Linked DNA regions of Homo sapiens. The protein of the gene in region 2 purifies or fractionates together with the protein of the main gene of each other region. This does not show direct contact. Each region holds a gene or a part of one and is shown on either strand. Other genes may lie near its edges.

Region 1 (3,803 bases), on a different chromosome or scaffold from region 2:
TATACCAAAAGTGTGTTGAAACAGGTCATGCCAGTCTGCCAGATGGGGAAAGACTCTGCCAATAGGGTGAGGCCCAGCGTACTCCGTGCCTGAGGTTCACTTCCAGCTGGCCTTGGGCAAGTGTCCACAACTCCAAGCCTCAGCTTCCCAGTCTATGAAGCAAAGGCAGGAGATGAGGAAATGACTCTGGCCCCGTCATGGGGGAAGGAAGACGGCCAGGCACGCAGGGGTCTGGGCCCTTCAAACAGAGCAGCTCTGCTGTGATCCACTGCAGACATCAGGGCAGGACTGGGTACAATTTTATTTGAATGAAGAGTTCTGCTACCTTAGAAAAAAAAGATTGGGAGGCCAGGAGAGGTGGTTCACACCTGTAATCCCTGGACTTTGGGAGGCTCACTTGAGGCCAGGAGTTCGAGACCAGCCTGGGCAACATAGTGAGACCCCATCTCTACAAAAAAAAAGTAAAAACACTAGCTGGGAATGGTGGCGCACACCTGTAGTCCCAGCTACTCGGGCGGCTGAGGCAGGAGAATCACTTGAGCTCAGAAGTTTGTGGCTGCAGTGAGCTATAACACCACTGCTCTGCAGCCTGAGAGAAAGAGCAAGACCTTGTGTCTAAAAAACAAAACAAAACAAACAAACAAAAAAGGTTGGGAAATCATGGCTCTTGTTGGATAAAGTCCACTGTATTCTGACGCCTGTGAGACTAGCCCCCCACTGCCTGGCTCCAGGTGAGGCAAACCTAACCCAGGTAATGCAACCTAACACTTGGCAGCAGGTAAGAGGCTTCTGTCTGTCCTGCTTGGCTGCAGATGCCACCAGGCAAGAAAGGAGCACATAAGCAAAGGGGCTGAATGCACGAGACAAGGCGGTGGGGCAGTGCGGAGCACACATGACTTCTGGCAGGTGACCTCTCTGAGGCTCACCTCATCTGTCAAGTGCAGGTACTGATGGGGCTCCCCTCCTAGGGCTGCTGTGAGGCTCCAATGAGAAAATGCAGGTGACATGAATACAATGCCTGGCACACAGGAGCCCTCAGGACACTGTAGCTGCATGTGAGAGAGGACACGCGTGCATACCTGGATGTGCTCACCGGTGAGCCCCCGGGGAACGTGGGCAGCCGGGATGGGCTGAGGGAAAAGCTGCACCCCTGCACTCACCTGTCGGTGTTGAGGACAGCTTCCACCTCAGGGATGTTGGCCTTGAGAGAGATGGCACTGAGTTCATTCAGCTCCTGGTTGTTGAGTAACAAGTACTTGTTCCTGAAACAAAATGGGTTGGAGGAGGTAAAGGACAGGAACTGGGGCTGCTGGGTCAGCACCAGGCTAGTGTAGGGAGTCTCCTGCCCACTTCCTGTGGACAGAATCTGAGAAGCCACCAGGCACTTTCCTCTAGCACCTCTCACTCCAGCCAGCACCTGCAGGAGGGAACTCTGGGCTCTCAGGCAGTGGAATCTCTCCCTGGCCCCACCCCCATCCCCGACCCCTGCCTGCCACATTCATCGACAAGGCCCCTTCCCTCAGCAGCTCTGGGCCTTTCTCTTTGCCTACATTTCCACTTGTTTTCTCAAAGGCACCAACACCTCAACAGGTCCAATCACACTCAAGCCTGGCCCTGCTGCAGCAGTCCCACCAAGCACCACGGTCACACATCACACAGAGGCCTGGTTAACTGTGACACTTCCCCCGACTTGCCATCCAGGCCTGTCACTGCTGGGTCCTGTGTTCCCAGGACACCAGCTCCCTTTACTAAAAGGTATCCCACAGGAACTGAGTCATCACACGGTGCCAAAAGTGATCTTCAGAATCAGGACTCTGATCCTGTCACTCCCGGTGAAAACACTTCCACAGCTTCCCACTGCATTTAGAACAGACATTTCCTGACTTAGGAGGAGGTTATGTCCTGATAAACCCATCGTATTTGAAAATGCCGTTAAGTTGAAAACATATTGAGGCCGGGCGCGGTGGTTCACGTCTGTAATCCCAGCACTTTGGAAGGTCCAGGCGGGTGGATCACGAGGTCAGGAGTTCGAGACCAGCCTGGCCAACGTGGCGAAACCCCATCTCTACTAAAAATATAAAAAATTAGCTGGGCGTGGTGGCACACGCCTATAATCCTAGCTACTCAGGAGGCTGAGGTAGAATTGCTTGAACCCAGAAGGTGGAGGTTGCAGTGAGCCAAGATCATGCCACTGCACTCCAGCCTGGGCAATAGAGCAAGATTCCGTCTTGAAAAAAAGAAAAAGAAAGAAAACACATTTAATATATCTAACCCACTGAACCTCCTAGCTTAGCCTAGCCTACCTGGAATGTGCTCAGAACACTGACTTCAGCCTACAGTTGGCCATAATCACTGGCAACACGGCAGGCACAGCACAGAGTACTGGTTGTCTACCTTGGTGATCGTGTAGCTGGTCACCATTTTTCTTGAAATACATTCTGAGCTGCAGCTGCAGCTCAGTGCCCAGCATTGCAAGAGTATTGAACTGTTTATCATGAGCCCAGGAAAAGATCAAAATTCAAAATTCTACTTCTGTACCATTGTGAAGTTGAAAAATTCTAAGTGGACCATCTGTATATAAAATCCAGGCCTGTGACTGTGACCCACAACACCCTGTGACTGTGACCCACAACGTCCTGTGCAGCCCAGCCCAGAGCCAAGCCCACATCACTCCCATCAGCTGGCCACAATGGTCTTCCCTCGTTCAGGGGCTTCTGGCTAGAACACACACCCTCTCACATGCCTGTTCACTCAATTCACTACAAGCTGACACTTCAGGTCTTGGCTGGCAAGCCACTTCTGCAGGGGAGAGTTCCTGAGTGTCCTCTGGCCAGTCCTGGACCCTGTCAAATGTCTCTCACAGACCCCGTTCCTCTCCTCCTGAATACCATCTCCACTTATCACTAATGCTCAACGGTGGAATCCTTGGATGAACAACTGTCTCTGTTTTCAGACTCTGCCCTTCATGAGAGCAGGGGCCATGGCTGTTTGCATTCATCCTGATATCCCACAGAGTACTCAGACTGAAGAGTCTGATGAAAGCCAGAGACTCACTTCCTCAGGGAAAACAGCACAGTTCCATAACATATGTGGTGCCATTTTTCAGAAGGTTAACATGCTTCCTGGAGCCCTTCTATGGCTTTCAGCCGGAAAACCTCTCACAGAGGATGGGTGCATATGATGGAGGTGCCCTGGGGCCACAGCTGTCTCCAGGCATGTTCTGTTAGCTCAAATGCAAGGTTTTTAAAATATTTAAACCAACATTTAAAATCAGGACCTTTCACATAAATCTTAATTTCTGCCTTTGCTTGGCAGAAAAAATCAGAAGTTATGCAACAGTGGGCCCAGTTTCCTGTGCACACGCAGCTGGCTGGAGCTGAGCTCACTGAAATTCTTGTTCACTAAGGTCCCCACATCACCTCCCCAATGCCAAGGTCAAGGGTCAGCTGCTAGTCACCCCCTTCCTGCACTGTTTTCCTTACAGCAGAGAGTAATTTTCCTTGTACATTCTCCATCGAAGGTTAAAAAATAAATGAGCGCAGAATGTCTTTCAAGAAAAATGGGAGCACACCTCCTTGTGGAGGGAAGAATCCTCCAGCTGCTCAGTAAGCAGTCGGCTTTGCCTGTCTGAAGTTCCTGCCGGCCCCTGGGAATAGCCACGCTGTCCACTCTTGCTTTAGAGGGGCAGTAGGTTGAGAAATCCATTGATTCCAAAGGTAGTAAGGGGCCAACGACTTCCATACTCAGTTCCTGGGGTGGCTATGAGGGTTAGAAGAAAGCTTGGGGCAGTGCCTGCCATAAGG
Region 2 (4,448 bases):
GGCCCCTGCAAGTTCCCTAGGCGACCCCTGTCCCCACCACCAACCGCTGGAGAAACCTGCATTTCCAAGTTTATCTTTCACTAGCTAGAGGGAAAAACCTTTCAACTGAGCTGATAAAGCCATTTCTCCAAACGTAAAGGGCCCAGAGCCCAAGCCTCCTCTCTGCCACCCAGAGGGGGCTCAATCAAAATAAACCATCCCGGGTTTTCTACCGGTCTAAATCCGCCAGCAATTTAAAACGAAAGCACAGTCCTTTGCCTTCCAAATTAATCTGCATATAATGGTTTACCCACATTAAAAGGTCTTTAGAGGTGACAGGTAATTTAAAATTTTAATCCCGGCCATCATCGACAACAATAACAAAAACACCATTTTTTTTTTTAATACAAAAGGAAGGCTTAGCCTGTAAAATATTAACGCAAGGGCTGGGAGCCACCGGCGGCCAGGAGGGGAACCGGTTCAGTATCCTAGGCCTCTTCTCAGTTACTTCATCTCTTAAGTTTGACTTTGATCTGGAGGGAGCAAACACTAGCTGTTTGCAGGCATTTAGAGGCGCTGATTTATTTGCAATCGATATTCTTTTTATAATCAGTAGTAAAACACAGCAAGTCAAATTATCCCATCAGGTTTTTTGGTAAATAACATTTTATCTTTCTAACAACCTCATTAGGCCTCATTATTACCATAAATTGCGCAGACAGACATTCAAATACAATTTTATCTTTTGACTTCCAAACACCCAATTATAATGGCTTGGAAACCTAGGCCTAGAATCAGGGTTTGGGTTTGAGTTTACTCTCTCAGAACCAGTGGGAGAGCTGGAGAAACACACACCTTTTGGGTGGGAATAATTTTTACATATTATCCCTCTAGGTGGGAAAAACAACTCAGAACAGCAAACATCTCCCTTCCCCAGCTCTCCACAAAGGGTGCAGGTCCTCACACTGAAGCTCTCTCCCTCCCCCGCAAACACAGGCAGGGTTCCCAAATGGCACACAACTGCATTCGCAATTTCTGTAAAAAATATTCATCCTCTGAAAAAATGGTCTAGTTGCAATGTTAGCAAAGGGAGTTCCGGACTCTGAGAAAGTTGTAAAGACCAGAAGATTTCTTGGACTAATTAGTTTGGTGACTGAGGCCGCAGAGAAAACATTTCTGCGGCTAGATTTCGTTTTTGCCCAATCGTTCCAAAATGTACTTTGCGCTTTTCTAATTATTTTGGTTGTAATTGTAAAGAAGACGTTTCAGCCTCGTCTCCACTGGGAATTCTTTTTGAAAGGACACCTTGTAAATCTCTCATCGCGTCCCGGCCTCCCCGCCGCCTGAACAAAATGGGGGCTGATCTTTTTCGATAGTAAGAGACCTGAAAGGCAGCCGGGCCGCTTTCTTTCAAAACTACAAGAAAAGTTACAGGGAAACCCGCTCTTTGCTTGTGCACACTTGAGGGGCGTTTACTCCCCGCTTCTCCTGCGGGGAGCGGGGAGATATCGCGGGTGCTTGGAAATTGCTTTATCCCGCGGGCAGCGACCCAGGAGGGGGCTGCCTCCCAGGGCCCCGCGCCCGCCGCACAATTCACCAGCCGTCCGAAGTTTAAGCACCGACCTTGCAGTCAGACCAAGGAAAATGGATGATTTGGACCGGCAGACAGGCCAATGCCCCCGCGGAGAATTAAGTGTGCAGCCGCCTGCCCCGACATCTAACGCCCACTGGGACGGGAGACTAAGAGGACACCATTTGTTTTAAGCCAAGGGACACTGTTTTCTTTAATCCTCCATTATGTAACGCAGGAAGAAAAGTGCTTTTCTTTCTGTGCAAATGAAATGAAAACTTGGGCAACTTACAAAAGTAAAATCAAACACCGTTTCAGACACCAGCACATTACTGCAACTTAATTTTTGTTTAATCTCAAATTCGCACTCACGCCGTGGAGAGACCTCTCCATCCCTTTGGACCTCTATTGTTAAGATTATTTTGATTGACTCTACCAGGCTTAGAAGGGGTCTGTCTGGCAAACTCGGATACAACTATCTCGGAGCTGCTAAAGAGGGAGAAAACCAAGTTTTCCAGACTCGGTTCGAAAACTAAAGAGGCCGCGCGAGTGGAACCCGCGGCCAGGAAGGGAAGTCCTGCTACGCTACGCCGGGCCGACCTGCAGGAACCCCGTGGGCCTGCCCGGGCGCCCTGGCCGAGCCAGGCGAGTTTGCCCCCGACCTCCAGCGCGGGCACCGCTCCACGGGCCTGCTTCTGCGGCCTCTCTGAATTCACTCGCTACCCGCTCCCTGGCCCGGGCCTTCCGCTTTCCCAGGCCGAGATGGCCCAGCCGTCACCCGCCCGGCCTCCCAGCCCTCTTGCGTCCCCGGGGGCCGCGGCCTCGGCCACCGGGAACCTGCCCCCGGACCTTTCTAGTTCCTCTTCCGGACCAGGTCCACCCGTAGTCTCTCCCTCCCGGGCGACCCGCCACCCTTGCCCTGGCGCGGGTGAGACAGAGGAGAAGCGGGGGAGGCCGGGCGCACTCACCATCTGCGAGAAGAGGCTGAGATCCGCGGCGTAGGGCAGGAAGGCGCTGTAGTTGGGCGCGCCCGCGTACGGCCCCGCCGCCGCGTACATGCCCAGCACCGAGGTGACTGCAGCCGCGCCTGCCCCGCCGCCCAGCTCCGCGGCCCCCGGTCGGCCCGACGAGGCGGCGGCAGCCGCCGCAGCGGCCGCGGCCAGCACCCCCGGGCGCTCGCCGCCGTAGGCGCCCGGCCCCGCGGCGCTCAGGTACTGCGGGTAGCCCAGCTGCGGGAAGGACATGTCCGCGGACTCGGCGACCGCCGCAGCGGGCGAGTATTAAAGGCGCGGGGAGGGAGGCGGAGGCCGGCCGGAGGGGGTTGCAGGGGGCGCCGCGAGGGGTCTAGGGAGGAGCGGGCGGCCGGCCGGGCGCGCTCGGGCGGGCCGGGAGATGGAGGCCGGTCGCGGCTCCTCTGCCCGGTGCTCGCAGGCGCCCGGCTCCCGGCTGCGCCCGGATCCGCAATCGCGCGCCGACTGCGGCGGCCGCCCTCCGCTCGGCGGCGGGGCTTTCAGACACAATTTGAAGTTGATGCTTTGATTGGCATCCCCTTGAGCGCAGGCCCCGCCCCTGGCTCCCCTCCCGCCCCCTCCCTGCCTCCCGCCCGCCCTCGCCGGCCGCTCCCGCCCCTCCCGCGAGCACGTGGTGCCCCGTGCCGGCCCGGCCAGCTACTCTCGCGGTGGGCGCGCGCGTCGGGGCGGCGGGGTGTGGGCCCGGAGGCCGTGGGCTCCTTCCCGACCAGCCCCCGCAGCTGTCTGACAACCTGTCGACACGGGTTTACAGCTGTCTGACACCGGGTTTGCAGTTTCGCGGCCGAGGTGTGTCCCCTTTTTAACAAAAACAACTTGGCGCCTGCTTTTCTACTGTTTGGGCAGCGGGGAAGGGGCCGGCGGCCTGGACGCTGGTGACAGCGAGGGGGGAGCGGCCTCTCCCCCGAGTCCCGCGCGGCCGGGGCCTCCAGGGGACATCTTTGGCAGAAGTGCACCCGGACGCTCTCCGCGAGCCACTGAACCGGCGTGGCGTGACACCCCCGACTCCAGATGCGGGTTCCCGTGGGCCCCTACTGGGTAGTAACCGATCGTCTGCCAATGACCGGCCTCGCCGCCCTTGGGGAAGCGGGGAGCGGCCGAGCTCTGCGGGCTCTTTCAATTGTGCAAACTTTGAGCGAGGGCAAATCCCGCGGAGAAGTCGCCAGCTCGGGGGAAGCAGGCGCAGTCGGCGCCGCGGGTTCTCGGAGGGAGGGGTGGGGGAGACGCGGGGGGAGGGGCTTTCTCTTCACCCAGAAAGCCCCCTGGCAGCCGGAGGGAAACATCCCCCGCGCCCCCGCGAAGGGGGAAGACGGTGTGGCCTGGACGCCCGGTTTGTCCACCAGGTGTGCAGAGGCAGACAGGAAACTTGTGTGGAACGCGCGAACCCGAGTCGGCGCCGCCGCCAGACCGGCAACGGAGCGGCCTCTTGGGTCCAAGTCCCGCGTCCCTCTTCTCCCTGCGTCTCCCCTCTCCATCCTCAGCCTCGTCGGGCTACAGGACGCGGCCAGGCGCGGCGCACTTGAGATGGGCTCCGTTTCGCCGCGGCCCTGGCCGTGCGGCTCCCGGGAGAAGATGCCAAGTGCACGGGCCTCCTCGCCTCCCTGAGCCTGGGAAGGCGCTGGCAGGCCACTTCTGCGCCTCGTGGCTGGAGAGCTCCGGACGGTGCCGTGGGGAACCGGGTACCAGTCCCGGCTCCCGGGGCCACTTTGCGAACCACCTCCTACGCAGAGACGGGGCCGGGAGTTCACCCCGCTGCGGCTCTCCAGCACACCGGACTCCGCGGGAATTTCAGCAGCGCACTCTGGCGTCTTCTCGGCTTTAGGCCGGGTTGGGGCTACGGGATGAAGGCGGCCATCGGGCCAGAGTCGGCA

What was found.
Region 1: the proteins of IRX1 (region 2) and TRPC4AP purify together in Homo sapiens (affinity purification with mass spectrometry; one large-scale study listed by BioGRID and IntAct). This does not show direct contact.

Annotation. Positions count from the first base shown.
Region 1 is NC_000020.11:35,009,027-35,012,829, forward strand, and holds part of TRPC4AP (short transient receptor potential channel 4-associated protein), read right to left. Parts: intron 1,263-3,803; coding exon 1,161-1,262; intron 153-1,160; coding exon of another isoform or gene 140-152; exon of another isoform or gene 33-139; intron 1-32. UniProt on the Homo sapiens protein: Substrate-recognition component of a DCX (DDB1-CUL4-X-box) E3 ubiquitin-protein ligase complex required for cell cycle control.
Region 2 is NC_000005.10:3,594,451-3,598,898, reverse strand, and holds the start of IRX1 (iroquois-class homeodomain protein IRX-1), read right to left. Parts: upstream 3,068-4,448; 5' UTR 2,794-3,067; coding exon 2,518-2,793; intron 1-2,517.